Linked DNA regions of Homo sapiens: regions 2 and 3 are each reported to be linked to region 1. Evidence: microRNA targets listed by miRTarBase, many of them from high-throughput screens and not tested one by one. Region 1 holds a microRNA gene; each other region holds the end of a gene's coding sequence.

The links. Region 1 holds the annotated microRNA hsa-miR-873-3p (GGAGACUGAUGAGUUCCCGGGA, at 3,916-3,937, shown strand). A microRNA usually pairs through its seed, bases 2 to 8, with sites in the 3' UTR of a target mRNA and lowers its output. Matches are read on the target gene's strand: a 7mer-m8 pairs with bases 2 to 8, a 7mer-A1 pairs with bases 2 to 7 and ends in A, and an 8mer does both.
Region 2: the mRNA of NUP42 is a reported target of hsa-miR-873-3p. The part of its 3' UTR that is shown has no 7-base or 8-base seed match.
Region 3: miRTarBase lists NBEAL1 as a target of hsa-miR-873-3p. Seed matches in the 3' UTR shown: 7mer-A1 at 6,684-6,690.

The regions. Positions count from the first base shown.
Region 1 is chr9:28,881,983-28,892,825 of GRCh38, reverse strand. MIR873 (microRNA 873) reads left to right here and starts at 3,871; the gene lies at 3,871-3,947. The region is part of intron 2 of LINGO2 (leucine rich repeat and Ig domain containing 2); the gene reads left to right.
Region 2 is chr7:23,197,825-23,208,667 of GRCh38, forward strand. NUP42 (nucleoporin 42) reads left to right here. Exons shown (of 7, transcript NM_007342.3): 6 at 1,634-1,718; 7 at 2,344-3,182. The coding sequence ends at 2,921. Among named protein-coding and RNA genes, the nearest start is that of NUP42, 21 kb to the left of the region's middle. RefSeq lists a silencer at 8,140-8,419 and an enhancer at 8,610-8,669.
Region 3 is chr2:203,214,858-203,225,700 of GRCh38, reverse strand. It overlaps NBEAL1 (neurobeachin like 1), which reads right to left. Exons shown (of 56, transcript NM_001378026.1): 56 at 507-8,448. The coding sequence ends at 8,347. Among named protein-coding and RNA genes, the nearest start is that of CYP20A1, 19 kb to the left of the region's middle.

The DNA.
Region 1 (10,843 bases):
ATAACACTATTTCTCCAAATCAAAACTAATTTAAAACTATTTAAGGAACAGTATTGTGTAATAATATTCAATAGGGTAGTATGACTCAGAATAGAAACTTGAGTATCTGACAAAATTAAAGTCAATACAGTTATCATTGCTGTTTCTTATGCCAAGTAATAAAATCTTTTGTGTTGGTATAATCATTTTCAATAAGAGTATGTCAAGAGAAATTGTCTTTTTAATTATGTCATTATCATTGCTTTTATTTACATGTTAAGTTGCTTTTGATTTTAAGTTGTGTATATAGTTTTTGTTGGTTTCATGAAACATGGATTATTAGTAAAAGTATGTGGCTATAGCTGGTCAGAAATCTTTTTGTCAGATTCAGTATCAAGAATAAGCATGAAAAGTACAATTGCATTGGTGAACATTTTTATCAGTAATGAACTTAGTGTCAAACAAATATCTTTGAAAGCATGAATCAATACATAAATTCATATTTTATCATGATCTCTTCACACATTTTCTGTAAAGTGTATGGGCATAGTGGCAATCACTATGGAGAAATAAGCCTAAGCAAATCTCAAACTTGAGAACTTGACCTCTTAGAGCTCAGTACATTATGACTGCTTGTTTTTCATAATTCTAATCAAAAACCTGGATAGGTGCATCGCTGCAGTCTAGCATGGAGTGAAAATTTTAAAATTCAGATTTATCTCCACCTATTTCAACCATGTAGTATACTTTATGAACATAGTGATTTGATGAGGTAAAAAAATTTATAAAGAAAGACCCAGTTTGTTATTTCCAACAGTTTATTTTGTTTCTCTAAAGATCAGACACTGGGATAAGGATAGAAAATGCTTATTAACCAAAGAGGTAGTAACATGAATAATGTTAGAGTGTTTATAAAAAAAGTATCTTAAAATAGAAAACTCATATAAACTTTTAAGTGCCTTACAGCATTCACGTAGTCTAAATTCTCATTCTAAAATATGTTGCTCTGTATTTAAGAAATATTTGTATTTCTGTGACTTTGACCATTTTCTTTATTGTGACCTCATAAATTGCATGAGTATTCTCTAAATAATTTATTTCAGCATTGATAATAATAAGTAGCAGAAAGGTTGTCAAAGAGCTATAAAGATGTTAAGGAATGGCTTCTCTTAATAGAAGTACAAGGAATGGGTATAGTTTTCATCATCTTAAATAACTTTTTGAGAAATGTGGAAACAGTTCCCTAGAAATAGCATCTATACTCACCCCAAAGGTACCAGACTTCATTATAATGACAATGTTATTAGTAGATTTTTCAGGATTATAATGGGTTAGGTGTTAATATGACTAATACTCTTTTTTTTTTCTCCAGAAATTCCTTTCCTGCTTCAAGATTTTAGCATTAATATGTAAATTCAGTAACAGGGCTATAACATTCAATTTGTTCTCTCTGTTCCATTCCTTACCCTCAATAATGACAATAATGCTGATAAGAATGATAAAATACTATGAGATAGGTACTACTAGTATCCACATTTTGAAATGAGAAAACTAAGTCCCAGAGAGATTAAATATAATGTGAGGCACACATAGAATACATTGCTTATTCTATGTGTGATAGTTACATACAGGTCTCTGCTTGTAGAACTCTAAACTTTTATGTACTGCTACACAATTGCTTCAACATTTCCTCCTCTGTTTCTTGGTTTGCACCATTTATTGCTATTTAGTGTTTCTCCTTGTCATCTTTGTATATCTGCATCTGTGATATGCATTTGCCACAAATAACCTACGTTTTATTATTAGGTAAAATGTTAATGCAAACACTATAAAGGAAATGATTGTATCACATTTATTTAGCCACCTACTCTACCCTTTAGAAAACTTTTAATAAATGTTCTCTGAGTTGCTGATTATTTATTTATTTACAAATACATTTCATATACTAGTCAGTTGATTTTGTTAGCTGCTGAAGATTTTCTAGGTGTGGAAAAAAGAAAAACAGGATGGTGCCTCTGCCTAGAGGATGCTTATTCCTTGGATAAAGTGGTGATCTACTCTTATTTGATTAGGCTATTTCAAGGATTCTTGACTGTCAATTGGAATTTTAATTGGAGACTTTAACAGCAAATAACCTTTATAGCATATGATTTACATAAATAGATATTCAACAATTTTAATATAGCCACATAATGAGGAGGTTATTCAGTGGGGTCTACTTCCTTCCCCAGCCCTAGTAGAGATTAAAGAGAGAATGTCCCATTGTCCTCCAAACTCCTCTGCCATACAAGTAACTGACTCTGGGTCCATTTGGAGAAACTTCTACACTCAACCACATAAACCTCATAATTCAGAGTAGTTGAGGCTGTATTCATTGTGGCATTCTTCTTCCACCTCATTAAATACCAGGCAGGCCCCTTTGATCAGGTCTCCATGGCAGTGCTGCCCCTGGTACACAAGTGTGTACCCATTTAGGAAAAGACAGTAACTGCTTACCTGCACAACCTAATTATATGGAGATATGGTCTCAGTCCTTTAACAGTGAGACAGAAACAGAAATCCAAGCTCCAGGGACAGGAAAGTCTACTGAGATCAAAACCCCTTCTTTTGCCCCACAAAAACAAAACAAAACAAAACAAAACAAAACAAAAAACCAAGAAAACCTGTAGTTAATTTCTGCCAATTCCTAGATAGGACTTAAAAATTAAACCTCTTCAATAAAGTATTTACATACTGCCTCTTACAAGGGCATATGGTAGTAAAATAAATGGATCTATATGCTATTCTGTACCAAGCATGAGTGCATGAAATTTTACCAGCTGGGAACCTTTATGGACAGAGACCCTGTGTGTGAACAGGCATAATTGCCTATACACATGCTTTTTATGGGGAGAAGAGATAGTGGAATATTTATTTTTTTCATTTGAACAAACTAACATAGGCAAAATTTTCTAGAGCTTAAAATTTCAGAAAAACTGCAAAGACTAACACCTGGTCTTGGAAAAATATTTACCTTGATGATTACCACCTTCCTGGTCAAGAACTGAGCCTGTCTTCTTAGAACGTTAGAGCTAGAGTCTGAGATCTAATGGAGACATTAAAGCTGATAAAAATAAGTTTCAATGTTAGGAGCCATTAAATGGGCAAATTAACCATTTGTTTTTATATGAGAAAAATAATTTATGTGTTGGCTGGTAGAAAAGATTCCAGTTATTAATAATACATTTAAAATTTACAGTAATTGCTGAAACAAAGGTTTTTTAATAGAAAAAGACAACTTCAATAACATTATATTTATGTATAAACACTTCCATTCTTTGTTTCCAGTTATTATATCATCATCACACATTTATATCCAGAATGAAAAGTAAAATAGCCCAAATAATAATTTTTAAAATTAAAAAAAAAACTGAAGCAAAAAACATGTTAAATGGTGTGACATGGAAATACTGCTATGTCTTAGCTGCAGTAGGGCTAGAATTCTGATCTCGTAGTTCCCTTTGCTAGATTCTTCCCATTGCACCAGGAAGTACAAATTTAAATACCACTGCCTCTCATTTGGCATTGGAGACTGATACTTTGACTCAGGCATTATTGAAAGTGAACTGGACTAATGTTTGATAGAATTGCCCTAAAGGCAAGAAATTATTTATCACTCTATCTTTAAAACAAGAACAGTGACCTGCTTAAGGGATGCTCAATCAATATTTATTGAATACATAAATGAAGGTGACCAGTGTCTGGGATGCCCACAAAACTGTTTGAAAAGAATCACAAGCACCAGGCAAGCTGCTGAAGATACTCCAGGGGAACAGATTACTGTATTCACTTGAAATGGAGGAAATATGAACAGCTGCTTATCTGCAAATGGTTCCTGCTTAGAATAAGTTTGTGTGCATTTGCAGGAACTTGTGAGTCTCCTATTGAAAATGAACAGGAGACTGATGAGTTCCCGGGAACACCCACAAATCTTCCTACTCATTTCTACTGCTTTGCAATGGACAACATTTTATGGCTGGTACCTTCCACTGTTGTCAGTTCCTCCAAGTTCTGAGTATAAGTTTAAGTTCTAAACAAGGAAGTAATGTTGAAAATGCAAAATAATTCAGTTAGGCAAGGGTTAACTTGTCCACTCAACATGGATGTCAGTAGGTTTACTTGAGGTGTTGAATCCCACCAAGGGAAGCATCTCTAATAGTCCTGATCTTATCTTTGTAAACTCAGCAGACATTCTACAAGACATAAATTATTCAATGAAATGAATGGTGCCAGTGCTTATGTGAAAGATAATTTATAGACCTTGCAGGAAAGGAAAAAATTAAAAATCATATGTATTCCCTTAAACTTTTTTTCTTGGTTGTATCTAATCAGGAGTTTAAGTATATAAATGTTGAGATTGTTATCTAATTTTTTTCTGAGAAAATATTTTCTCTGTTCATGTTCATGTGTAACATCAACTTATGTAATTAGTCTTTTTATATTTCAGGATTGTTCAATGGACCACATTTAGCATCAGCATTGATAGCATGAATCTGTTGTTAAATCTCATAAAGCAGCCTTTCATGAAACCACATAAGGTTGATCCTTTATAATCTGTTTATGGTCTTCTTTTAACAAGAGTGACAAATTCAATTACTGAAGGAGGAATATAGTAAATGTATGAAGTTGATGATGTGTATCCTACATTAGTGAGTAGCAGAGACTCTACTCATAGTCATACCTAAATACTTTCAAATTCACTTAGAAAAATGAATCATATCTAAAGGTTATATTTGTGTTAAATATTCTATAATAATTAGTGATAAAGTTCCTCTCAGTGTTTTTCTACATTCCTCAAAATGTTATCTTCAAAACATTCAATGAAGTTCTTACATGTAAGCTGGTAATACAAATCTTACCTTCATTTTGACCTGTCTTTTTTCTAAAACAATGTGCAGCCTTTAAATTTTTTGCAAATTAAATCCAGTTGGAGCTTATTTCTGTAGGATTTCTTCAATTGATTTTAATTATCCTGGCATAAATATGGAAAAATATTAAATCGATTGAAAGCATGTTTTCAGACAGAAGTATCGTCAATCACTGGTCAGTAGACCTTTCTGTTTCTCTTTCACAATCTAGGATTACAGTTCTCAGCCTTTTTGTTTGTCTTTTTGCCCCACATCTAAACCCATGATCCTTGTGTCTGTGTGATCACACTGCTGGATGTGGCTGAGATAAAACAATGTGTTGGCTGTATTTTATTTCCAGTAGCTTGTTGTGATGTCTCCTCTGAAAAGCTTATCTTACTAGAATGCAATAAGGTGGCATATATGTCACCCTGAACATGCCCTTCTTTTTTTTTAATAAAAGCAAATCATCCACTAACATTACTCTTTAATATTAGTAACAAATTACTGGCTTCTGCAACATGTCATCAGGTACAATCAGGAGAGAGTTGAGAATCACTTTTCTGGAATGTATAGTTCATCCTAATGCCAACAGTTTTTTTAAGACCAGGGGCAAGTTAGAACAATAGGCCTCATTCAAGGAGCTCATCTGACCCTTGACTTTCAATAACTAGAGAAAAAAAAATCCTTTCAATTTTTTTCCCACATGTAGATCAATAACATGGAACTTATATGTCAGCATCAACTCAGCAGACATCTCTATTGAGCATCTATTTTCAACTGTTCTGCCAGAGTCTGGGGTTAGAAACTGACAAGCGTGTTTGTATAGCTCTTTGTTCATCATTATTATAATGGACACAGCATTATATGTACAAGGTCCTGCCTCACTCGTTGGAAATCATACATTAGGCTTTCTTGTTCATACCCTGCTCTGCATTACCTTAAGCAATGAAATGTGGTCAACCCACTGGGGAACATTTCTTAAATATCTAAAATATGTTAGATCCACTTCAGTTTAAAAGCCTGCATCTCTAATATTAACTTGACGAAGCTCTAACTACTATTTCTATATTATTTCTCTCTCATTTAATGTTCTGTTTGAATGTATTATATTCAGTTTATCTCAAGTTGCCTAAGTGGAAACTCCTAAATGTGTCTCACAATTGCATGTTATCTCATAAAAGCAAAGTTTTAGTTTAGTATTGAATTCATTCTAGGATTCTGTAGATGACACTAGCTAGCCTCATTAGAATAAATTATGGGAAATTACATAGAGAGAAAAACAGACTTTCACCTGTAAAAGCGGGAAATCAAAAACAAACAAGCAGTACATATATTACTTAAAATTGGAAGAAAAGAAATAAGCAACAAAAGAAATTATGTGAGTAACTGTGGTATATTTTGTGCAAAAATCCAGTGGCCCATACTCTTTCCTGGAAGGTAAGACTCTAATTAAAGTTTCATTTGTCATTACCCTCAAATCCAAGGAGTAGCCCTGTCATTTTAATTAAATACCATTAACTGAAAGATTACTGCCTAGTATGACTTAATTGGCTCTTCAAATTACTCTTTCTAGAAGGAATATACCATTTTAGACCTTCCATAAAAGCTTGTTTTAAAAATTTTTTTCATAGTACCATTTTAGCTTAGATCCAATTTTTTGAGCCTCCATTTTCTATCCTAATTATGTTAGCCAATAATGTCTTTCAAATATATCAATGTTTTATCTTCTCTGCAATTAATTTTCTTCCCCTTCTCACTGTATATTTCATTTCTGAGTTTGAGTAAAGGCATGTCAGTACACTGAAAGCAAACATAACTCGTTGATTTAGTTAATTTATGAAAATTTAGGAAATTTAAAGCAATTCTAGGTTATTCTATTTATTTGTATCAATACTTAAAATAAAATTTTTGTTTTTTATTTGCCCACCATAGGAAAATAAATAGCCAAATATAACAACTGTATAGTTACTCTCACTTGTTGCTGAACAATTAATTACCAAGATAAAAGAGTATATTAGGCAAGTTCAATGGCGCTTCTAGGAACCTTAGTGAAAGTGGATCTGGTTTATGCAGTTTGAAACTCTCTGGAGAATTCAGCTGTTTGTACTGACTAAAAATAGTGATCCTAGTTTCTGCATGGCAACCTCAGATCCCTGACCTACAGGCATCCTGTTCAAATGTTCCACCACCTGGGAAGCTAAGGATAGCTGTTCTACCCCTCAGAAGTAGCAGAACCTTAGGCAACTAGAAAGTTCAGTTTTATTATTCATTGCAATTAGTTCCATAATAGCACCAGTTCTTGTAAAAATCTTTCCTAGTGCAACTACTACTTCAAATGCATTTTTTATAGATAGACTTTAATATTTAATTGCTATTGACACACTTTAACTATGCAATTAAATAGTGTTGTGTGGGCCTAAATGTTTATATGTTGTCATATGTACACACAGACTTTATATATATATATATAAACGTGTATATGTATGTATATATATATGTATGTATATATGTGTGTATATATATGTATATGTGTGTGTATATATATCTATGTATATATGTATGTATGTATGTGTATATATATATGTGTGTGTGTGTGTATATATATATATCTCCCTGCTGCTTCCAGGGAGTCCAGCCTAGTCCCATTTGCTGGCCAGGCCTCTCTCAGCTTCTGGTCGCCACCACTTCCACACTGCACCCATGGGGCAACCTCACCCGGACTGACAGGCACAAGGGGCACCGTTGCAATTATTAGGGACAATGCAGGGTCTCCCTGTGTCCCTCCTACCCACATGTGGGCAAGAGAGACTTTGAGTGCCCGGGAGTGCTCAGTGTTCTGAGAGGAGGGCCAGCCAAAGGGAGGGGACCCTGCAGTGCCAGCAGGGAAATTTTGATTTTGAGGTTTCTAAATGCATTAAAGTTATTTCTTTAGCCATATATATATATATATATATATATATAATATATTATTATATATTATATATATTATATATATAAAATATTATATATTATATATATTATATATAATATTATATATAGTATCTAAATACATATATATAGTATCTATATACATATATAGTGTATATGTGTGTATATATAGTGTATATATGTATATATATACAATTGCTAAAGAAATATATATATATACTGCTAAAGAATATATATACACACACACTATATATATATACACACACTATATATAATGTGTATGTGTATAGTTTTACAAATTTATATATTACAAATTTGTATATATATATATACACATACATACACTATATATATATATATATGGAAAATACATTGAGTTCTAAACCATTGACTTACTTATGTATAAACTTTTAAACACAGTCAACTTACAATTTGGGAATTATTTACAGATGGACAAAGGTCCGCAGGTCGATAATTGAACCTCTGTCCTATTCCTTGGAAGTAATCTAAATATTTGCTCTTTTTAGATAATTATTTTTTACATTTCAAAAATTCTAACAAAATTATATTCTTTTCGATAGTAAGTCTCCATTTGTTAACAAAACTCAGAATTACATTCACTTTCCCTGATAGTGATTATTTCGTGCTGATCAGAAGAACTGTTTGCTGATCAAATTGTAGCAACATCTGTGATGTGACTGGTTAATCAAATACAATTATCAAGGGTAATAGGTGGGCAGAGGGCTTGGATTATATATGCCAGACACAATCCATCTTTGGAAAAAAGAGCAGACTGAAAGTTTACAGGAGAAAAAAATATTTTCAAAACAAAAACTGTAAGGGAAAATAACAGTGAAAAAATATTCCCTGATTTCTTTTTATACTTTGTTCAACTAATTTTCGTTGAGTATTAGTTTGTTTAGACACTGCGCTATTCTCCAGGGATTAAAACTGAGAAAACTTAGCATGACACTTGTCTGTATGGAATTAACATTTAATGATTTAATATATAATAAGTATATTAATATAATAAACACAATATAACATATTCTAGCCGGGCGCGGTGGCTCACGCCTGTAATCCCAGCACTTTGGGAGGCTGAGGCTAGTGGATCACTTGAGGTCAGGAGTTCGAGACCAGCCTGTTCAGCACCGTGAAACCCCATCTCTACCAAAAATATAAAAATTAGCTGGGTGTGGTGGCGCATGTCTGTAATCCCAGCTACTCGGGAGGCTGAGGCAGGAGAATTGCTTGAACCTTGGAGGTGGAGGTTGCAGTGAGCTCAGATCATGCCACTGCACTTCAGCCTGGGTGACAAAGCAAGACTCCATCTCAAAAACAAAACAAACAAAAAAACCAAATATATATATATATATATATATATATATATATATATATATACACACACACATATTTTATATATATTTGAATTATTAAAAGTGATTAATATACACTGAAGGGAAATGTCAGTTGCTGTGACAGCATAGAAGGGAAATACCTGCCTTATTATGGTTTGAGTGGGGGAAATGAGGGCTTTCCTTGGGAAGTTGTGTTTGATCTGATATCTGACGAATTAAAGATTAACAGAGTGAGTGTGGTAGAAAGATGAGAATGTTCTAGGCAGAAGGAACACTATGTAAACAACCTGAGGTTAAAGACAATAGCAACACGTACAGCAATTTAAAAAGACTAGGCCGGGCACAGTGGCTCACGCCTGTGAGGTAGGAGAATCACTTGAACCCGGGAGGCAGAGGTTGCAGTGAGCTGAGATCACACCCCTACACTCCAGGCTAGGCAACAGAGCAAGACTCCGTCTCTAAATAAATGAATGAATAAATAAATAAATTAAAGAAGACTGACATGACCAGAGCACAGAGAGTGAAGGAGGAAGGAGTTTGGATTGAGCTCAACAGGTAGATAACAGCTCCAAATCATCTATAATCTTGTGGGCTGTGGTAAGGGCTTTGGTTTTTATTCTAAGGACTTGGGATGTTGTTGATGTGTTTGAATTGGGGAAGGCCAGTTAACACATTTGTGTATGTGTGTTTATTTTAAAGATCACTACAGTGTAAATAATGTATCAGAGGGAGCTGTGTGTGTATGTAAGGGACTAATTACAAGACTATTACAATAGCTCAGGAGAAGATGGTGGCAGTGAAGATTTAAAAACTACAGAAAAGAGACAGGATACATTGCAGAGACATTTAGGGAATGAAAATTAATTGACTTGGTGATGATGAGTATCAGCAGCAAAGGATAGGGAGGATGAGGTAACAATAATAACTACTACTTTATGGTGTGAGTCACTGAATATGTGTCAGTGTGGTCCACGAGGTGTAGGACAATGACAGACAACCAAGACTGTAGAGATAATCATGTGTGAGATGGTTATAATGAAAAGGTTGAGAGCCCTTATCTTAGAGGAGCATAGCTAATCTATTTTCTGAAATATTTCTAGTGTACTGATATTGAATATTTGCTAACTTGGTTCTATAGAAGGTCTACCACTCTCTAAGCAGGTAGAACTTTAATGCTGTTGTATTACTGGAGTTTACAGATGGCTACCATTAGTTAAATGCATACAGTGTTCTAGTAGCTGTACCAAATCATTGTTTCCAAACTTCTCAATAATCCTGATATACTAGCAAATGGCAGAGCTGGAGTTCAAACTCAGGACTGTCTAACCCCAGATTGCATACTTTGGACCATGTTGTGCTACATCTCTTCATCTATTGTGAATATGCTGTTAGACAGGTAATGCTGTTTTAGTGGCTAAGTGAATTTTAGTTCTCTCTTTTGCCCTTTGGAAGCTGTCTATACAAAATTAAATATACAAAGTTGAATATACAAGATTAAATCGTATCTGTGATTCAAGGAAATTAGAAGCAACAGGCAATTTTGGGAATTGAATTTACTGAACATAAAGAAAGTACAGATTTTGATTATTATTGTGATTATTATGACCATTGGTGTGAAAGTTACTAATACAGTGGTCCGCTGTGTGCTTCAGATTTAAAATGCTGTACAGGTAGATTAATGCAAAATAT
Region 2 (10,843 bases), not on the chromosome of region 1:
GAGAAACCAGACCAAAAAAAAAAAAATAGTGTAGACCATGTGATTCCATTTGTATGAAACTCTGGAAAAGACAAGTCTCATTTGTAGTGATAGAAAGCAGACAGAGTGGTTGCCAGGGACCAGGAGCAAGAATGCTTTTGAGGGCTGGGTGCAGTGGCTCACGCCTGTAATCCCAGCACTTCGGGAGGCTGAGGCAGGCGGATCACAAGGTCAGGAGTTTAAGACCAGCCTGACCAACATGGTGAAACCCGGTCTCTACTAAAAATACAAAAATTAGCCAGGCATGGTGGCACACGCCTGTAATCCTAACTACTCAGGAGGCTGAGGCAGGAGAATCACTTGAACCCAGGAGAGGTTGCAGTCTCAAAAACAAAAGCATTCTTTTTTTTTTTTTTTTTTTTTTTTTGAGGCAGAGTCTCACTCTGTCACCCAGGCTGGAGTGCAGTGGTGCCATCTCAGCTCACTGCAAGCTCCGCCTCCCGGGTTCACGCCATTCTCCTGCCTCAGTCTCCCGAATAGCTGGGACTACAGGCACCCACCACCACGCCCAGCTTTTTTGTATTTTTAGTAGAGACGGGATTTCACCATGTTAGCCAGGATGGTCTCGATCTTCTGACCTCATGATCCGCCCGCCTCAGCCTCCCAAAGTGCTGGGATTACAGGCGTGAGCCACCACACCGGCCAAAGAATGCTTTTGAGGCTTCCAAATGAAAGAAATCGCTTATGTTTGCTTTGGATGATTAAGAAAGTCTTCTTGAAAGGAAGGAGCAAATACAAAGTTCCTTGAAAGTAGGATTAAGATTTCAGTAAGCAGAGATGAAAGACATTTCTAGAGCACAGAACAGCAAGAACATAAAGTACTTTCAGGGAATGGGAAATGTTTAATGGATTTTTAGTCATAAGCTTTTAATTATATAATAGTGGATCTACTTCGAGTATTAGACTGGGTATTCTATAAAGGTCCTTTTTACCTAATATCTAGATTTCTTGATAAATGCAGATCTACCCTTATAGACACTGAAAAAAATTTAAAAATATTTTTCTGATTATAATATCTGCTCATTGTAGAAATTTAGAAAGTATAAAAAAGCATAAATAAAATTTAAATCACCTGTAATTTATCAGCCAGAGATAATCACTGTTAACTTACTAATGTACATTTTTTATGCATATTCATATTACTAGTTGTGATTATACTGTTTATACAGTATTATGTCTTATCCTTTTCAACATCATATTATGGGCATTTTCCATGTTAAGCATTTAACTTTGCCTTTTTTAATGCACTTTTTTCTTCTCTTTTCTTTTTTTGAGTCAGAGTCTTACTTTGTCATCCAGGCTTTCCCAGGCTCAAGTGATCCTCCCACCTCAGGCTCCCAAATAGCTGGGACCACTGGCTAATTTTTTATAGAGATGGGGGTCTCGCTGTGTTGCTGAGGCTGGTCCCAGACTCATAGGCTCAAGCCCTTCACCCTCCTCAGCCTCCCAAAGTGCTAGGATTACAGGTGTGAGCCACCACACCCAGCCTTTAATGCACATTTTAAAAACTTGAATTTGTCCATAAAGTGTATAGAAAAGATACTGGAGCACTATTCATCAAGCACTTTATTATTTGCACACTTTTTTTTTTCAGCTCTCTGATGTAAAGGATGGAGTAAATCAAGCAGCACCTGCATTTGGATTTGGCAGCAGTCAAGCAGCAACATTTATGTCGCCAGGTAAGTGATAAAGTAATGCAGGACTTCACTGATTTAGAAAAATTAGATTTTATAGGTTTCAAATTACAAGCCTGAATCGCCATTTTAAATTACCTTCGTAAATTCTACAACCTTCCATCATAGAGCCTCAAAGCATTTGACTCATTAGACATTTGTGAAAGGGAGGCCAGATTGGGCATGTTCTTTGAAAGACACTTAAGCTTTAGAAGTACATTTTAGGAATGAGTTTTCAGGAGTTTCGTAGAAGTACATAGCTATGATAGCAGCACCTTTGAGAACTTTCTTGTCACTGTGTATAACAGCATAGCATTGTCCTCAGGTAGCAGCTCTGGTGAGGTAAGTAGAAACCAAAGTGAAAGTCTATTCCCTAGTCCCTGTGGTTTCTCCTTGGGTGAAGGTCGATCAAGGTGAAAATGGGATTGTTAGCAGAAAAGACAGGCAGCAGGCTTTAGTGGGTAGTTCTAGCCTCTCATTTTTACTTTCCTCATCTCGTCCGTCCAGTAAGCTTCTCAACACTGAAACATGACATAAATAAGAAAAAAAGATAGGGGGAGGAAATAATTGTGACATTTTTCTGACCGTAATAGATTTTTGTTGTTTTTTTTGTTGTTGTTGTTGTTTGTAGGCTTTCCAGTCAATAACAGCAGCAGTGATAATGCTCAGAACTTTAGTTTTAAAACAAACTCTGGATTTGCTGCTGCCTCTTCTGGAAGCCCTGCTGGTTTTGGGAGTTCCCCAGCATTTGGAGCTGCAGCCTCTACCAGTTCAGGTATCTCTACTTCTGCTCCAGCTTTTGGATTTGGGAAGCCTGAAGTCACATCGGCTGCATCATTTTCATTCAAAAGCCCTGCAGCTTCCAGTTTTGGATCACCTGGATTTTCAGGACTTCCAGCTTCCTTGGCAACAGGTCCTGTCAGAGCTCCAGTGGCCCCAGCCTTTGGAGGTGGCAGTTCTGTGGCTGGTTTTGGTAGTCCGGGCTCACATTCTCACACTGCTTTTTCTAAGCCATCCAGTGACACTTTTGGAAATAGCAGCATATCCACTTCTCTGTCAGCCTCAAGCAGCATCATTGCAACAGATAATGTGTTATTCACACCCAGAGATAAACTAACAGTAGAAGAACTGGAACAATTTCAATCCAAGAAATTTACTCTGGGAAAAATTCCATTAAAGCCTCCACCTCTGGAACTTCTAAATGTTTAAAAGGGCAATTTTAAATACAAAAAAGAATGATGTTTAAAATTGCTTTGAGTGATTCATACAGAGATGTATATATGCATACATGTATATATTCATAAGGAATATAAGCTTCCATCAATAGTGATTTTAAATTTGATTTTTTTCTTAACTCTAAATATTTAAGTAAAAAGTAACAAAAACTCTGCAAGCAAGGGAATTTTTTTGTACTGTAATTTTGAATGGAACTGAAAAATTATGCACGAATAAAGTACTTTTCTCATGCCATACCACTTTACTGTCTCACAATTTAAAGTTTTAAACTTTTTTTTTTAGGAAGGAGATAATTTCTGTAATTATTAGGGGGAACATGCTCAAATATTTAACCTACTTTTAGAGTAAACATTAGTAGCATGACTTCATGTTCAGGATTCTCTCAAAGAGATAAATCAGTTTGTAAAGAGTGACAAGCTTTTAGTTTTAGAACCATAGGGGCATTTCCCCCCCGATAAGTTTGGTTCCCTCTCAACTTTGGCGGTCTCGTGGACCACCATTTGAGTTTTCTTCAACAATCTTAGGCTGCTTTTTATTTTGGCCTCACTTTTATAGAATTCTATTTATTCATCACATTAGTCTGTCAAATGGATGAGTTGTAAGAGAAACAAATTGTGATCTCATGTGAATAAATAATGTGTGTAGTGGGGTCAGGATTCACCAGTTTCTGTTTCTAGATCTTCTCAGGCATGGCCAGGTACAGTAGCTCACACCTGTAATCCCAGCACTTTGGGAGGCTGAAGCGGGCAGATCACTTGAGGTCAGGAGAGTTCGAGACCAGCCTGGCCAACATGGTGAAACCCTATCTCTACTAAAAATACAAAAAATAAGCTGGGTGTGGTGGCGGGCACCTGTAATCCCAGCTACTCAGGTGGCTGAGGCAGGAGAATCACTTGAACCCGGGAGGCAGAGGTTGCAGTGAGCTGAGATCACACCACTGCCCTCCAGCCTGGGTGACAGAGCGATACTCCATCCCCTTTCCTGCCCTCCCCCAACAAAAAAAGAATTATTGTGCATGTTTGGATCTCCCTGTGTCCTCAGATTGAGGGAGTAAGATTTATATTTTACATATGGATGATCCAAGAAACTAAATGCCTGTCACGAGTTGAAGCAGGTATATCAGACTTCTGCGCTTTCTCAGTCCTCAAAAATTGCATAGCTAGCACTGCCAGAGCAGTTACTAACACGGTTCTGGCATTCAGCTGATTTTTCTAAGTGAATATAAAACCTTACATAATAAAAGATATGCCCTCCAAATGATTTTAACGTATGCAAAGGATTCAGTCCTCAAAAGACCTGCATTCTCCATTACACTTTTGTTGTTGTTCTTGTTGTTGTTGTTGTTATTGTTGTTGAGACGGAGTCTCACTCTGTCGCCCAGGCTGGAGTGCAGTGGCGCGATCTCGGCTCACTGCAAGCTCCGCCTCCTGGGTTCACGCCATTCTCCTGCCTCAGCCTCCTGAGTAGCTGGGACCACAGGCGCCCACCACCACGCCCGGCTAATTTTTTTGTATTTTTAGTAGAGACGGGGTTTCACCATGTTAGCCAGGATGGTCTTGATCTCCTGACCTCATGATCCGCTTGCCTCAGCCTCCCAGATTTCTGGGATTACAGGCATGAGCCACCATGCCTGGCTCCATTACACTTTTTGAGGAGCTGCATGACTCATCTGACAGTTCTGGAACCCCAGTGTTTGGTACAGAATCTATACTATAACCAGGGGATATATATTTGAAACCATGCTGGTGTAGAGATGGTAAATAGAGCATAAGTTCCTTTAGAAGGAGCAAGATTAAAACAAAAAGAGCATAAATTCCTTCTTTGGTCTCAAGCTCTACAGACTTTCCAGTATTCGAACTAATACTTGAATCCTAGAATTTTCCTGCCCCGCCCCCCCCCCCCCCGGGATGACCCCTACACTACCTCTAAATTGCATACAAGCTCCCTGAGGTCTCAGTTGAACTTCCCAGTGTCCTGGAAGATCTCAGAAAATCCTAGTTAAAAGCCCATTGTTTCCAACTGTGCCTGATTATAGGAATCACCTGGGGTGTTAAATAATATATCCAGATAACATATCCAAATTACAGGAGCTGCCCATTGGGATGGGCTTGGGAATATGTCAACAGGTATTCCTTGTGGTCCTTCAGGCAAGTTTGGGAAACAGGACTATCCAGCTGGATTTAGGCTACTTAGTAATACCTGATTTGGGAGTTTTAATTGTTGAAGTCTGTTTTCTGTGCTCCCATATAGACAAAAATGTGGGAATTTAACAGGATCCGAAGTTTTTTAAAAAGCACAAATAAGTGCTACAGGCTACTAAAAAATTTTGAGAAACTAAAGCAGAGAGGCCCACAAAGTAGAAACTAGCACCATGCATACATACTGGTGTCAGAAGTCAAGAAAACTGGTAACTCCCAGACCTAGGCTAAGGGGCATCGCGGCTTCAGAAAATCAGAAACAGGTAACAATGAGGTGGCAGCAGCTGGGTATAAAGGTAGGTTGAGTGTTCAGACCCCAAGAGGGAGGTAGTAGAAGGGAAAAGGCACCCACAACAAAAGGATGTGCCAGCATCTTCTGGATGGTATCTCCTAATCTCATATCCAGTGAGACTAGCAGAGCTGGACTAACTAAGAGGCATACCCTAAAATAGGCAAAAATAGCCTGCCTTCACAGCTGCTGTAATAGCTGTCCTTTTCACCTAAGGTCTAGAGCAAGTGACAGAATTGTAGATAAGGTATAGCAAATAAACTGATTTAACTCGATTGATTATCTGATCACAGATTAGAAGGGGAGAATGGTAACAGCTGAGAGCTGATTAAAAGGGGAGAGAAAGTGAGCTGATATTAAAACTAAAAGGTATAAAATGATTTAGCTATGCAGTATTATTCATGAGTAAAATAATTCAACTTGAAGCATCAAACAATGATTTAATTGTGGTAGATACATACATTGGAATACTAAACAGCCTTTCTAAATGACTTAATAGAGAATAACTTGGAAATGTTTTCATTCTGCAATCAGTGGACGAGAGTTTGCTATAAAAAGAGCATGTACAGTGTGATCCAATTTGGAGAGAAAGAATATATTAATGGGGGGGAGGCTAAAACTTAACAATAATAGCTCAAATTTTAGTGAGTTTTTGCTATGTGCCAGACAATGTCCTAAGCATTCTGTATCTAGTATATTAGCAAATTGCCTCATCACAACCATATAACCTAGGTGCTATTATAACAATTCTCATTTTCAAAATGAGAAGAGCAAGATTTGGAGACATTAAATGACCTATCCAAAGTCACTCAACTTCCAAGTAGTTGAGTTGTAATTCAAACACTGAATTTAAAGGGGCCATGCTTTAAACCACTCTGCTATACCACATACTAGATTATGAGGACACTTTGTCTTTTTTTTTTGTATTTTCTACAATAGCATTACCTTTATATGTTTCCCCCATTTTTCCTCATATGAGTACAATTTGCAGTCCCACCCCAAACTTACTGAATCAGTCTGTATTTTAACAAGACCCACCAAATGATTTGTATGCACATGAACATGTCAGAAACTATTTCATGTGTAAAGGAGATGTACAAAAATGTACACAGTATTGTTTATATAGCAAAACAGAAAGCACCAGAAGTCCATCCACGGGATAATGGATAAACTTTGGCATAATGGAATATAACTGTATAATGACTCAAGTTACTTGTATAAACAACCACCAAAAAGGGGGAAGGTACAGAATAGTATGTATGATATACCATTTAAAGTACAAAAGAGCAAAACAATACTGTAGTATTATGTATGGATTCATAAACACAGGAATAATAGCATGTGGATAATAAGCACTGATATGAGTTGGCTGTGTCCCCACCCAAAATCTCATCTTGAATTGTAATAATCCCCATGTGTCAAGGGCAGGACCACGTGGAGACAATTGAATCATGGAGCTGGTTTCCCTCATTCTGTTCCCACGATAGTGAGTTCTCATGAGATCTGATGGTTTAGGGGCTTCCCCCTTTCCTGGGCTCTTATTCTCTCTGCTGCCGCCATGTGAAGAAGGATGTGTTTGCGTCTCCTTCTGCCATGATTGTTAAGTTTTCTGAGGCCTCCCCAGCCATGCAAAACTGTGAGTCAATTAAACCTCTTTTCTTTATAAATCACCCAGTCTTTATTAGCAGTGTGAGAATGGACTAATACAAGCACCAAATTCAGAACAGTGTTTACCTAGGGAAAGAAAAAAAGAAATGGGATCTGAAAGGCACAGACAGGGAGCTTTATATGTGACTTAAAAAAAAAAAAAAGCTTAATATGAGAAGCATAAAATTTGACAGAGCTGGGCATGATGGCACAAACCTGTAGTCCCAGCTACTTGGGAGGCTGAGGCAGGAGGATCATTTTGGCCCAGGAGGTCAAGGCTGCAGTGAGCCATGATCACACCACTGCACTCCAGCCTGCATGACAGAGTGAGTCGCTGTCTCAAAAAAAAATTTTTTTTTAATTGACACTGGGTGATGAGTAGTACATAGTAATACGCTGTTGTTTTCTATACTTTCCCACATGCTTGAAATAAGTCTGCAAACTTTTAAATATTTGATTTAGGGGGAAAATGCCTTTTTCCCCACCCTAAATTGTGTATTATCAAGTCACTTTCAGATTTCTGCAGTGATCACTGTGAATCCACTGGTTTGCCAAATGGTGTCCAAGCCTGTTGGATTAAATATGTCATGCTGATGAGGCTTGTCATTCAAACACTGAAGCACAGGAGTAAAACTAGAGAACTGACTGTAGAGGTGGAAAATGTAATTTTTGCTATCAGACTAACGAAATATAAAAGGTACACATTTGTGGAACAAAATAAAAATCTTTGATTCACTAGTTGTGTGTTTGTTTCTCTAATTACACTGGACGAGGAAAATAATCTAGAATCAACATATTAAGTAGTTACCTTGAGGCTCTTTTCTCAACCACACATCATCAACCACCTGGAAATCTGTTCCTTTTTCCTGGTTATTTACAATGCAAGCAGCTTTTAGCCCTGGCAGCACAGAAGCAGAAGAATTGAGGAATTCTCTGCCACTCCTGTAGTATCCTTTAACAGGTTAAGTGGTTGTCAAGCTTCTTTTTTAAATTTGTAAACCTATTTGAATCAATTTGTGACTCCTGCATTCCGGCCCGGCAGAAAGAGCTCGAAGAGACGCAGAGCGCGGCGCGCTCCCCCACGGCCCTCCAGGCCGGCGGGTGAGATGGGGAGATGAGCTAGGGGGCCCCGGACTGGCTGCGCCCTCTGCCCTGCAGACACGGGGGGCCCCGCTGTGGCTGCCCACTGGCCGGGCGCAGGCCTCGAAGCCGCGGCGAACCTCTCTTCCCCACCCCACCTCGGTGACTGTTGGCGGCGGCTCTCCCTGCCCAGACCCCGCCGCCGGATCCTGCCCGGCCTCGACGAAACCCCGCCGAGCCGCCGAGACGCAGTGTCTCCGGGTGGCGGCGGGAGAGGCGGGCCGGGAAGCATGGCGGCCGCCCCAACACCGCGCGGCGGAGACCGTTAGGGTGTGCAGGGCCCGGGAAGGCGGTCTCGCGACGCAGGCAAGCTCGGCCGCCTCTTTAGGCCACGGAGCCGCGCGAGTCCGGGCCCGGGTGACCGCTCTGTTCCCACTGGACGAGACCTGCCGAGTCCTCAGGACAACGGACAAAGGCCTTAACGGGCTTGGGAGGTGAGCGAAGTCCCGAACGATGACGGGTGGAACAGTTAGCGGCCTTCGGGCGGTTGGTCTCGTTCTACCAGAGCTTGCTGTCGGAAGAGAGAAATGGTGGAATGACAAGCCACGTCTGGCCTCTTGGAAATGCCCACCACCCTTTGGGAAGATTTACTGGCCGTTTATGGAAGGCCTGTGTATTTAATATGAAACAGCTGCTCTCAACACTACCCAAACCTTTTAATAGAAAACATTTGCCACATCTAGCCCTTCTATGAGCTAGATGGAAAGAGGTTGCTGATGTATGATAAAGTTAGAAAATCACACATCTTGTAAATTCTCATTTGCTTAAAAGAAATCATAGAAAATAAATGTCTTCTGGAGACGACTTTTGGAAATGGAGTTGTTAACACGGCCTCTGGAAGCGAGACGTCCACGTTTGTTAAGTGGTTTAGAGGACATGGAGCTGGAAGACCTGAGAAGGAAGAGAAGAAGCTTCTGTGCCAGACTGGTCATATTTAGAAGACATTTTCATATTCTCTCCATTGTTTTGTGTGCATTTCATTCCTCACTACTGTGTATATGGTTGACAATGCTAAGCTTTTTTGAAATGTCTATTCTTTTTAGATATTCTGAAGTGCCTGATATATGTAGAAAAAAATAACCTTTTGTAAATATCTTTTTGTTACAATTCATATGAAATGTTTGGTGGGGGAATGGCCCAATCACCTGTTGAGTAATACTCATTGTGTTTGTGCACTGGTTCAGGGGAGGAGGGGGAAGTGCAGAGATCTCTATGCCACTGTGCTTACAGCGAGGCAAGATTAATCATTATCTCTGCGCATTTTGTTTTACTTGTCTGTGTATATAGTGTACATAAAGGACAGACAAGTCCTGATTTACAACATCTAGTCTTTCTAGATATTAAAGAGGTTGCCAGTACATGATAAAAGTAGAGTTAGTAAACTAATATATTTTGTACATTTTGTTTTAGAAGTCCTAGGAAAGATTGTCTTCTGAAAATTTGAGCATTCTTGCCCGCTGGGTTGATGGAGATGGGAAGGGTTCTAGGCCAGAATGTTCCTATTTGGAAGACTCTTTCAAATTATAACTGTTGTCACATGTTTGCAGTTTATTCAAGACTGCTGTGTTCGTAGTGGACAAATGAACTCCTTACTTGAAACATCTAGTCTATCTAGATGTTTAGAAGTGCCCAATGTATGTTAAATGTAGAGGTAGTAAAATACCACTTCGTAAATATCTTTTTGCTAAAATTCATGGGGAATGCTGTCTTTTGGAAATTGAATTGTGAAGCCACCTTTGTGAGCAGTATAGTACTGTCTATACTTGTTCAGTGGTTTAGAGGAGATGGGAGGGAAGACATTGCAAAAGATAATATGCCAGTGTGTTCATACTTGGACATTTTCAGACACCATTTTTTGCATGTTTTGTGCATGTTGTTTTGCTCTGTATATAGTGTATAAAACGGACAAATGAGTCCTAATTTTGCAACATCTAGTGTCTAGATGTTAAAGAGGTTGCCAGTGTATGACAAAGTATTTAGTACAATTAGCATATTTTGTAAAAAAAAATTTGTGACTCTTTATGACTCATACCTCTCCTCCACAAAAAAAAAAAGAAGACATTACTTGAATTATCTATTATTTCAGAAGTTTCTCAACTCAGAGACATTTACATAATTCGGTGGATTCAGCATATAGTCCGGTATAAGGAAAAGGTTGCTTGATTGGTTAGATTGTTATTCCTCAATATTAAGGACCCATCAAATGCTACACTTAAGGATTCAGTCCTAACACCTACCCTGTAGGTTTGGAATCAGGCTCTGAAGGATCACGGGAAGTTCCAGGCAAATGATCAACGCTCAAGCAAAAGAGGGAGAGGAAAAGAATAGAAACATTGCATACAAATCCAAATGGTGACAGGTGCAAAGACCAAGAAAGGAGTGCATTAAAATGCTAGAGAGTAGAGTGAATGCAGTCACTAGGGGCTACAGCCTGTGATAACTTCCCAGAGGAAATGGATTTGAGTAGTTTTGAGAGGGAAGTGAAATCATAACGGGAAGGAGAAATAGCCAAAATAGAAGTCACCTTCTCATAGAGACAAAATGAGCCTGTGGAGATTACATTAACCTTAGATAGCGTTTGAAAATATTCTTTAAAGAATATTTACTACCTTGCTGAAATT
Region 3 (10,843 bases), not on the chromosome of region 1:
TGTTTTGAGACAGGGTATTTCTCTGTTACCCAGGTTGGAGTGCAGTGGTGTGATCTTGGCTCAGTGTAGCCTCCACCTGCTGGGCTCAAGCTAGAACTACAGGTGCATGCCACAATGCCTGGCTAATTTTTAAATTTTTTTAGAGACAGGGTCTCTTTATATTGCCCAGACTGGTCTTGAACTCCTGGGCTCAAGCTATTCTCCAGCCTTGGTCTCCCAAAGTGCTATGATTACAGGCATGAGCCACTGTGCCTAGCCTGTAACAATGTTTTTGAGGTAGCTCTAAAGTGAAAGGCAGAATATCTGTTGTTACATATGACAAAAAATAGTCAATTGACATGTATCTTGTGCACACAGGACTACAGAAGAAATTCTGCTCATATGAGAAAGAAACATTGATCAATTTTCTAATTAACAAATACTGTATTCAATCTCTTGTCTACCCAAATAACTTAGCCAAGGATAAGTTCTAATCAGACTCTATGAACTGAGAATTACAAATCAACTGAAGAAAGTAACATCACTTTTTTTATTTGATTCAAACCCATTTTCATATACAAAGCTAATTTATTATGTACAAAATAAATGGACATTCTTAAAAAGTATTAGAATACAAATTTCCAAGGGCCTAAAATAAGTGCAAAATTTTCAATTATCTTTAATCATGCTATACAGAAACAAATCAAGTATTAGCTCATATACACACAATGAATTTTTTAAAAATAGCACTTAATGTAATAAAACAAAACATACATCTTATATATTTAATTTTAAAAGGATGAGGAAGGAAAGAATGTATTGCACCAAACTAACAGTAACTTAACTACAATGAGAATAATCAAAATTATTTATACATCTTTATTAAAAATTGCTCAGCTTTAAAATGTTTTTGGGGGGCATACAAATATCCACTGAGTCACAGTTTGCACAGTCAATAATTAGATATAAATAAGGCATAATATTTTCTTTTTCATGGTCAATTCCAGTAGAATAAGTGAGAAGGAACATTTTAAGATAAATACACAACTTTCTGAATTCCTTCAATATTTAAGTAGCAGCACAATTTCCAAGTACTTTCAAAAAACAAGTCATTCTGAATTTTTAGTTATTACGCTCTGAATTGACTATGTGCATATACATGCATTCAAGTCACTGTCACTCTCTATAACACTGAAATGCTATTGGAGTCCCAGAAAAACTGACAAAAGAGATGAATTAAATATGTTTCATATTTTTATGCCTCAGTAGATTCATTTTTATAGCAATGAATCTGAGAGAAATGGCTATCTAGCCAGATATGATTACTTTTTGCTATATTTTTTGCTCCAAGTCTATAAAAGCAAACAACTGGAGGAATGAAAGCCATACCTGTTAAGAGTTTCTAAATGGAACCAACCAGCCACATAGTTTTCTAAGAAGTTTTCTTATATAAAGCTACTTATAAAATAAGCAGTTTGCCACAAAAAAAGTTTGGTGATGTTCATCAATCACAGTCTTTGAGAGCAGCAAAAAGCAGAATAGGAAAAAAACAGTTTAAAATATAAAAGATCTTTAATAGTAAGATCTACTATAACATGCCATAGTTTTGGAAGAAAAATAGAAATTATTATCATTAAATTGCTAAAAAGTCATCTAAGAAAATCAAAATTCCAAAATTCCAAAAGAATTATTCTTTCCAAAGGAAAAAATAAAGTTATCCTCTTTAATCCCTATATACAAAACAGACGCTGACAGTTTTTCAATTAAGTCTGACTACTGATATCCTACCAGAACCACTTCTTAAAGTGTTTAGTGATTAATATAACTTTCACATTCTGAAGAGTAAAACAATTATGTCGTATACAGACAAGTATCTTTTTCCTTCAAAATAAAGAGAAGCATTTATGAATTTGTAGGTTCATCCCACTAAATTGTAAAACATGTTGCTTAGTGTCAGAATATGTTACCAAAAGAAGACAACCCAAAATAGCATTTTAATGTTGACTAGTACACTGATTACCACAGAATTGCTAGTTTTAATACATCTTAAGTTGAAATATTACCAAAATAAAAATTTTAAAGGTCCAATTGGAATAGGACTTCTTTTAAAAAGTAGCTGAATTGATAAATTTTTAAAAATCCCACCTAAATCCTAATTTTTCTTCATCTTACATTACAATGCTACATTGTAACAGCATTACAAGCCGCTAATCACTCTGTACACTGAAAAATAATTATAAATTAATTTAAATAATGAGACAGCCATTACATAAGTGGAAACACAGACACACATATACCCCTCCACTAACAGTCAAGTTTGAAAAATGAATGGGTAATTTTTTAAATGACAAAATTGTGTTATTACTATTATTGTTATATTTGCAAAATATGTTTCCAAGGAAACATGAAAACCGTACCATGAAAAACAAATATTGAATTAGTAGCTTTCTATTTGTTCTTTTCCTTCTGAATTTTCAGTTCATAAGATTATGGGCATTAAGACAAAGGTAAATATTGTTGAATGTGCCCTTTTACTTATCACTAAAGCCACTGGCTTTACAGGTCCAAATCCTGCAATGTGTTTAGAAATCACTCACGTGTGACAAAGATCAATGAGATAATCACCAAACGAAGGAGATGTGTCTGATGAATTACTATAATCAAATAAGTATCTGATAATACAGCCACTATTAAATGAGATTTTTATACAGAAGAAAATCACGTAACTCCTATACTCTAGGATGGCCTTACATTTCTTAACACAGAAAACTGAATTATTTCCTATTTGGAATTAAACATCTTAAATGTTAATGCGTTCTTCTCTGTTATACCTATAAAAAATTAAAGATTATTTCCATACAGAGGCTGTACCTGCAAAAGTCATTGGAAGTAGTAGATAATTTACCCAATGCTTTTTAATTAGGAAAATTCTATTGATTACAAGCTTCAAGGCTCTAAGAGATCTACTTTTATGTTTTAAATTTAGCATGTTAGTCATGTTTTTTTCTTCTTTAAAATGTTGCCTAATTCAAGTTTGCAAAACGTTCACTGAAAGTCACCAGGAACTAATATTAGCAAACAGATGTACTTTTCTGGAGGCAAATATTAGTTATAATTTTCAAATGTGAACAGTCTAAAGAGAGTTCATGATAAAAATAACTCAATTGAAAGGAGATTTTGTTGTTTTTGTGGCAGGCAAAACAAAGATAATAAAGCCATTCCAAGCAAATTTTAGACAAAATGTCCCTCAGGATAATGATTAAGCCTATTTTCAAATAAGTCTGAATATTGGATCTGGTATATAAAGATAAATGGACAAATTTCTATGCAGAAAAATTTTTAGGATATAACATAATAATCCTCAGACATAATTTTTTAATACCAAGAATATCAAGCAAAGAGATTCATGAAGTCCAAAGCAGTGCCTACATATCTGTATATTTATAAACTCCACAGAGAAGTCTGATCTGTAATATCCATTAAGAACCACTGGCCTAGAAACTGCCAGATTTAAATTTAAAAAAATGTATTTTTGGAGACAGGGTCTAACTCTGCCACCTAGGCTGAAGTGCAGTGGTGCAATCACAGCTTACTGCAGCCTTGATCTCTAGGCTCAAGCAAACCCCTTGCCTCAGCCTCCCGAGCAGCTAGGACTACAGGCGCTTGCCAGCACACAAGGCTAATTTTTTAATGTCTTGTAGAGGTGGAGCCCACTATGCTGCCCAGGCTGGTCTTGAGCTCCTAGGCTCCAGTGATCCTCCTGCCTCAGCCTCCTAAAGTGCTGAGATTATAGGCATGAGCCACCATGCTTGGCCTAGATTTAAACTAAAGAAGGCAGGCTGTGGTCCACATTTTAAATCATATTAAAATGATGACTGATAACACTATATTGTTGCCTAAGGTCATCAAGAAAAATACCACATGACTCTGATAAATACAGGAAAACTCTATAGAACAATGCTCTGGATGGAGTCAAGTTTAAAACAAATAATATGTTGAGCATATACAATATACGAATTCAGCAAAAAGAATATTGAGAATGGATTTTGTTAAAGAGTGATGAAAATGTTTAAGATTGCTCACTTATTGGGGAGAAACAGTTTCAGCTGATGAGAGGAACAATGCGTAGGATAAGCCATGAGTATGGCTGATGATGCAAACAAACAAACAAAAAGGAAACAAACAAACATGTTTCATTTCTTATATCCCAGTCAAAAACTGTATCCTAAAGATAGGTTCAAGAACCTGTTTCCAGAAGACAGGTTTAAATATACATATTTGAAAAGACCAATCTTTACACACACATAACCCCAACAGACACCCATATTACATATATTATTTAATAATATAATATTTATATTTAATATAGTCCTAGGACTTGCATCTTTTCAGTGGAAAGGTGGTAAAGATAATGCTACTCATTTTATAAATATATAAAAGGAGCTAACTTCCTTAAGTTCAATTACAAGATTTCCTCAGTGGTCTCTTTAGTAGTAACAATATAAAATATACATAAAGGCAAAGGTCATATCTCTATCATCATTAAATAAAAATCTGGTATCCAAGTTAACAGTTTCCCCTGACCACTCCTTTTCACACAAAATATAAAATGTCTTAAGATTCAACCGTCAAATCTGAATTCTAATTCTGAGAGCCCACTTATTCTTTTCAGAAGCATAAACTTGATTTTCAATACAAGTACTCTGAAGGATAATTTTAATATGCCCTAAATAGAGAAAAAAAAGAAACCTCATTGGTGTTCCTTGCTAATGACAGAATGAACACTTGGTATTTTTTCTTCTACAAAAGGATGCACTGCACTGTGACCTAAACAAAGTTAACAGATTTTAATTTTGTTATTAACTTAATAACAGACGTGAGCTTCACAGGCTAAAAAGAAAGACTAAACCAACTTGCCAAACTTCATTTTTATATACTTTCCTGATTTTTATGCCCTGATCTATTTTTCTTTCTCTCTTACAATTTTATCTGAGTAATGCCAGAATACTGATTGCAAACAGTTGTAAAAAAATTTTATAAAGGTTCTTTATTCTCTAAGCGTGCACAGCTATTACATGTTTTAATACTTGATCTCATTTTCCAAAAGTAAAATAATTATCTTGGTATAAATCTCTTCCTATCACCAGGATGCTGAGATTTTTATTTTTGTCATCACCAGTATCAAGAAACAAAAGCATACAAAAAGTTTTGCAAAGATAACAGACTTTTTTTTTTTTTGAGATGGAGTCTTGCCCTGTTGCCCAGGCTGGAGTGCAGTGGTGCGATTTTGGCTCACTGCAACCTCTGCCTCCTGGGTTCAAGCGATTCTCCTGCCTCAGCCTCCTGAGTAGCTGGGACTACAGGCACCTGCCACCATGCCCAGCAAATTTTTGTATTTTTAGTAGAGACAGGGTTTCACCATGTTGGCCAGGCTGGTCTTGAACTCCTGACCTTGTGATCCGCCCACCTCGGCCTCCCAAAGAGCTGGGATTATAGGCGTGAGCCACCACAATTGGCCAGGTAACAGACTTTGTAAGAGCCAACTTGAGATACTATATTCACCAATTGAAATGTCCACCTGTTATTTCATTCCAATGATACTGTTCATTTCTCCCATTATATAATATATAACTAATTTCTATGGGTAACATCTAAATATACCAGAATTCTCAAAAGTACTTCTTTCCAATTATTTTATCTAGTGATTTTTAATTCAGTAGGCTATACTCTTTAAATGAGTAATATATTATTCACTAATAGTTGTTTGCTTCTTTTAACAGATAAAATTTAAGTTCCATTCTCTAGACTGTTGCTAGTATTCTCAAAGATTTTTCTCTAAATTCCATATTTTTTTTCTTTTCTTTGAGACAAAGTCTCACTCTGTTGCCCAAGCTGGAGTGCAGTAGCGTGATCTCAGGTCACTGCAACCTCCACCTCCCGGGTTTAAGTGATTCTCCTGCGCTGCTCAGCCTCTCAAGTAGCTGGGACTATAGGCATGTGCCACCATGCCCGGCTAATTTTTGTATTTTTAGTAGAGAAAGGGTTTCACTGTGTTGGCCAGGCTGGTCTTGAACTCCTGACCTTGTGATTCGCCTGCCTCAGCCTCCCAAAGTGCTGGGATTACAGGCATGAGCCACCACACCCGGCCCACATTTTTGGTTTTTACTTTTTGGAAAAAGCAATATAAGAAATAATTCCACTACCTTGTACATCTAGTATTAGTCCAGGTAGGATATCTATTTTATTGTGAACAAAACTTATTTGTACTATAAAGTAAAAACTGCTTATTTCTTCCATCTAAAAAGCAGCATAGTAAAACATCATAAACTTAGGCATTTTTTCTAATTATCTAAGTTTTAGAAAACTTATAAGCATCCAAAATAATTTTCAAATCCAGTATTAAGTAATCTTAAAAATGAAGGCATTTTTACATCAAAATCTCTGGATAAATAACAAAATAAAACTTAGTAGGTTTTGATTTAGAAAAAGTTTCTAAAAAAATCAGTATTTTAAAAACTAAAAATCAATCATGTTAGTTCTGCCGACTTGAAATCTCCTAAAAAACTGTAAGATAAAAAAAAAGATAGCCACGGTGGCACCACGGGTGAAGCACTGGATTGAAACCTCCCATCACCCCAAAAAAGAATAAAATAAATGAATAGATGCCAGTCTCATTTATGCATCATAATTATTGCTACTTAACTTGAGACTTTGTTCAATACAAATTCCTGAAGTCTTAAGAAAAGACACCTTGACATTTAAATATGTTCTATTTTACAATTGTTGTACCAGTTTATTTCAGAGTTATTTACCTAAAACATAGCTATTTTTTCCTTAATAAAACAGAGGATTTTTACTTATTGGAAAGAAAATTCTTCTATAGCTTTTTATTAGCCCTGACTCACATCAAATCAAATCTATTCAAAAGTTTCCCTAAACAGAATCCTTTATTTCTTAAAATTTTTTTACTCACTCAAAAGATTATAAAGAAAAGGGCACTGGATACTGTGGTCAACAGGAAAGCGAAATTGCAAAAGAAAAATTTCTCTAAGATTCAACTGAGAAGACAATTGGATTTAAGGACATCTATGATTTGTGGAACAAAAAAGAATACTATTACTGGAAACAGATCCCTTTAAAGAAAGCCATGTAACCATTCCTTCCTGAAAATGCATTTAACATACAAAGTCTCTGCACAATTTCAGAGGGATTCACAAGTTCTCCCAAACACATGAAATCTCAGATTAATAACACTGGTAGTTGTAAAAGCTCTCTGACCTAACTCAAAAGATAATCTTACAAAAAAATCTAAGTTTAACAATGTCTTTGAATTCCAAATTAAATAAATCAGACTTTTACTTTAAGATCTTAATAATCAACCACAACATTTAACACTATATAATAAAATTAGCTATAATCCTAAAACATGAAATAGAAATTTTTAAATTACTATATATAAATGATTATTTTAAGTTATACATATCTTTTCAATTCATTCATCAATCACACAGATATCCTAAGTAAAAATTCAACATATTTGGGTACTACTAACTCTTAATTATTAGAGTAAAACAGTATTTGCTTAGTGAAGAAAGAGTCAAGAAATTCGGAACTTTGCAAATGCAAATTGTGCTGCAAATGCTACTTAAAAGGCCCAACTGTCAAAATCACAATTAGCACTTTTGCTTAATTATATTATTAAGGAAATACATCTGTAAAATGTATCTCTAGTTCCACTTTTTTCTACTCAATTTTTATTAAGGACAGTAATAGATTTCAGTAACTTCTCATTAGAAACACGCTAAGTAGTAATAGAATTAGCTAATGTACCAGTTTCAATATTCTTATTTTATTCTTACCATGCAAACTTGTAACTTTCACCGAGTTTTGAAAATCCAAGTGTGCAACAGATACCTTTAAAATATTATCCCCAATCAGGAGTTCCATAAATAAATTGATATATTTTCATTACAGTGGTCAGTAAATAGGAAAATGATTACTTAAGAATGTATTTAAAGCCATCTCTCTCAACTGTCCCATTATCTGTACTCTTTTATTAGAAAAATCTTAAATTTTATCATTTGGAATAATAAGAAAATTGAACCTAATGTTCTCATTTTAGTTTGTTTTAAAAATGGATACAATGACCTTTAGGAATGGGCCACAAAATCAAATCAAATGTATTTTCTCAAATACATCTTAGTATAGACCAAGAATTAGTTTATATACCACAGCAAATTGTGGTTATCTGTAAATGATTTTCAGGGATAAAAGCCTTGCAACATTGCAGAGAGTTGAGAGATGTGGTTAAAGTGACAAAGCAATAAATCAGGTTTCAGTAATCATAACAGAAAATGGAAATAACAATCACTTGGAATCTTGAGTATTATATTCAGTTTCTCCAGCTGAAATCTGGCTGAGCCGCTTGCTCGATCCCCAAAATTTTCGAGAAAGCTGACCTGAACGCATCTGTGTAAAGTAATCCAAAGAAATGAAGAATAAATATTAAGAAAAAATTAAAAAAAAGATATGTAAGACACTGATTTTGCAGAGTGAAAAGAAACAAATTGTTAGCAGAATTATTAACACTTTAAAGGTTATCAATAATAGAGAAAGACGGCCAGGTGTGGTGACTCATGCCTGTAATCCCAGCACTTTGGTAGGCCGAGGCAGGTAGATCACTTGAGGCCAGGAGTTTGAGACCAGCCTGGCCAAAATGGCAAACTTCCGTCTCTACTGAAGATACAAAAATTAGCCCAACATGGTGGCGCACGCCTGTAATCCCAGCCACTTGGGAGGCTGAGGCATGAGAATTGCTTGAACCTGAGAGGCAGAGGTTGCAGTAAGCCAAGATCGTGCCACTGTCCTCCAGCCTGGGCATCATAGTGAAACTCTCTCTCTCTCATACACACACATATACACACATAATAATAACAATAATAATAATGAAAGACTTTTACACTTATTTTGTCTTTGAGAAAGCTCTAATGTCAGTGTGTACATTTAAACAATTAATGGCCTCGTTATGTCAAAGTTACCAGATTCCTTTATTTTATAAATTATCAAAAATATGTATTATTTCATCAAAATAAGCTTCTCAAAACTATTCTTTTTTAAAATTTTTAATTAATTTTTTATTTGTTTGTAGAGATGAGATCTCACTATATTGCCCAGGCTGGTGAAGTCCTGGGCTCAAGCAATCCTCCCACCTCAGCCTCCCAAAGTGCTGGGATTACAGGTGTGAGCCAACACACCTGGCTCAAAATTATTCTTAATTTTGCTAACAAGACATACAGGTTTGGAGATTTTCTTTTCTAGAATTTGCAGTACTGTTAATGCCAATCATAAGGATAAGAAGAAAGTAAAATAAAGTTTTGATGAAAAGAAAGTAATTTTAAAATATTTTAAGGCTTTCAAAAATAATATTTAACAACAGAATGATAAAAAGTAATGTAGAAAACAAGGAGAGCATAAGCCCCTTGAAGGCAGGAATTGCATTTTGTTCACCATTAAATTTGCATCACCTACCATCCTTCCCAGTGTATAATAAATATTAACCAAATAGTAATTAAATCAGTGAATGAATAAATGTCTTTTAAAAGTGTTTATACATCCAGATGGGGCAAAAATCCCCTATGGTTTGTTGCAATTACTTTCTCAAGTGCAACCTACTTTTTAATGGTGATTCCACCGTTTTTTTTTTTTTTTTTTTAGACAGGGTTTCACTCTGTTGCCCACACTGTAGTGCAGTGGTGCAACCTCAGCTCACTGCAACCTCTGCCTCCTGGGCTCAGGCAATCCTCCCACCGTAGCCTCCTAAGTAGCTGAGACTACAGGAACATACCATCATGCTTAGCTAATTTTTGTATTTTTAGTAGAGACAGGGTTTCGACATGTTGCCCAGGCTGGTCTCAAACTCCTGGCCTCAAGTACTCCACCCACCTCAGCCTCCCAAAGGGCTGAGATTACAGGAGTGAGTCACCATGCCCAGCTTGCCACCTTTTTTAATGGTCACTTTTCTTTTTTTTTTTTTTGAGATGGAGTCTCGCTCTGTTGCCAGGCTGGAAGTGCAGTGGCACGATCTTGGTTCACTGCAACCTGCGCCTCCTGGGTTCAAGCGATTCTCCTGCCTCAGCCTCCCAAGTAGCTGGGACTACAGGCATGCGCCACCACACCCAGCTAATTTGTTGTTCTTGTTGTTGTTGTTGTTTTCTGAGATGGAGTCTTGGTCTGTCACCAGACTGGAGTGCAGTGGCACAATCTCGGCTCACTGCAACCTCCACCTTCCTGGTTCAAGCAATTCTCCTGCCTCAGCCTCCACCTCCAGAGTAGCTGGGACTACAGGCACGTGCCACCAGGCCCAGCTAATTTTTTTTTGTATTTTTAGTAGAGACGAGGTTTCACCATGTTGGCCAGGATGGTCTTGATCTCTTGACCTCGTGATCCGCCCACCTCGGCCTCCCAAAGTGCTGGGACTACAGGTGTGAGCACTGCACCTGGCCCACACCCGGCTAATTTTTGTATTTTTAGTAGAGACGGGGTTTCACCATGTTGGCTGAGATGGCCTGGATGTCTTGACCTCATGATCCGCCCGCCTTGGCCTTCCAAAGTGCTGGGATTACAGGTGTGAGCCACCGCACCAGGCCTAATGGTTGCTTTTCCAGGGTATATTTATTGGAGTGATAAAAGATAAGCCTCATACAAAGTACTAGAGGCTTTGGCATGCTTCTTTTGCCAAATACATTTGCAGATGTATTTTCTGAAGCACTACTACCTTACCATCTGATTTTTACATATGATTTTCACTCTAATAGAATAATATATAAACTGGTACATGATTAAAAAATACATATTAATCAAGATT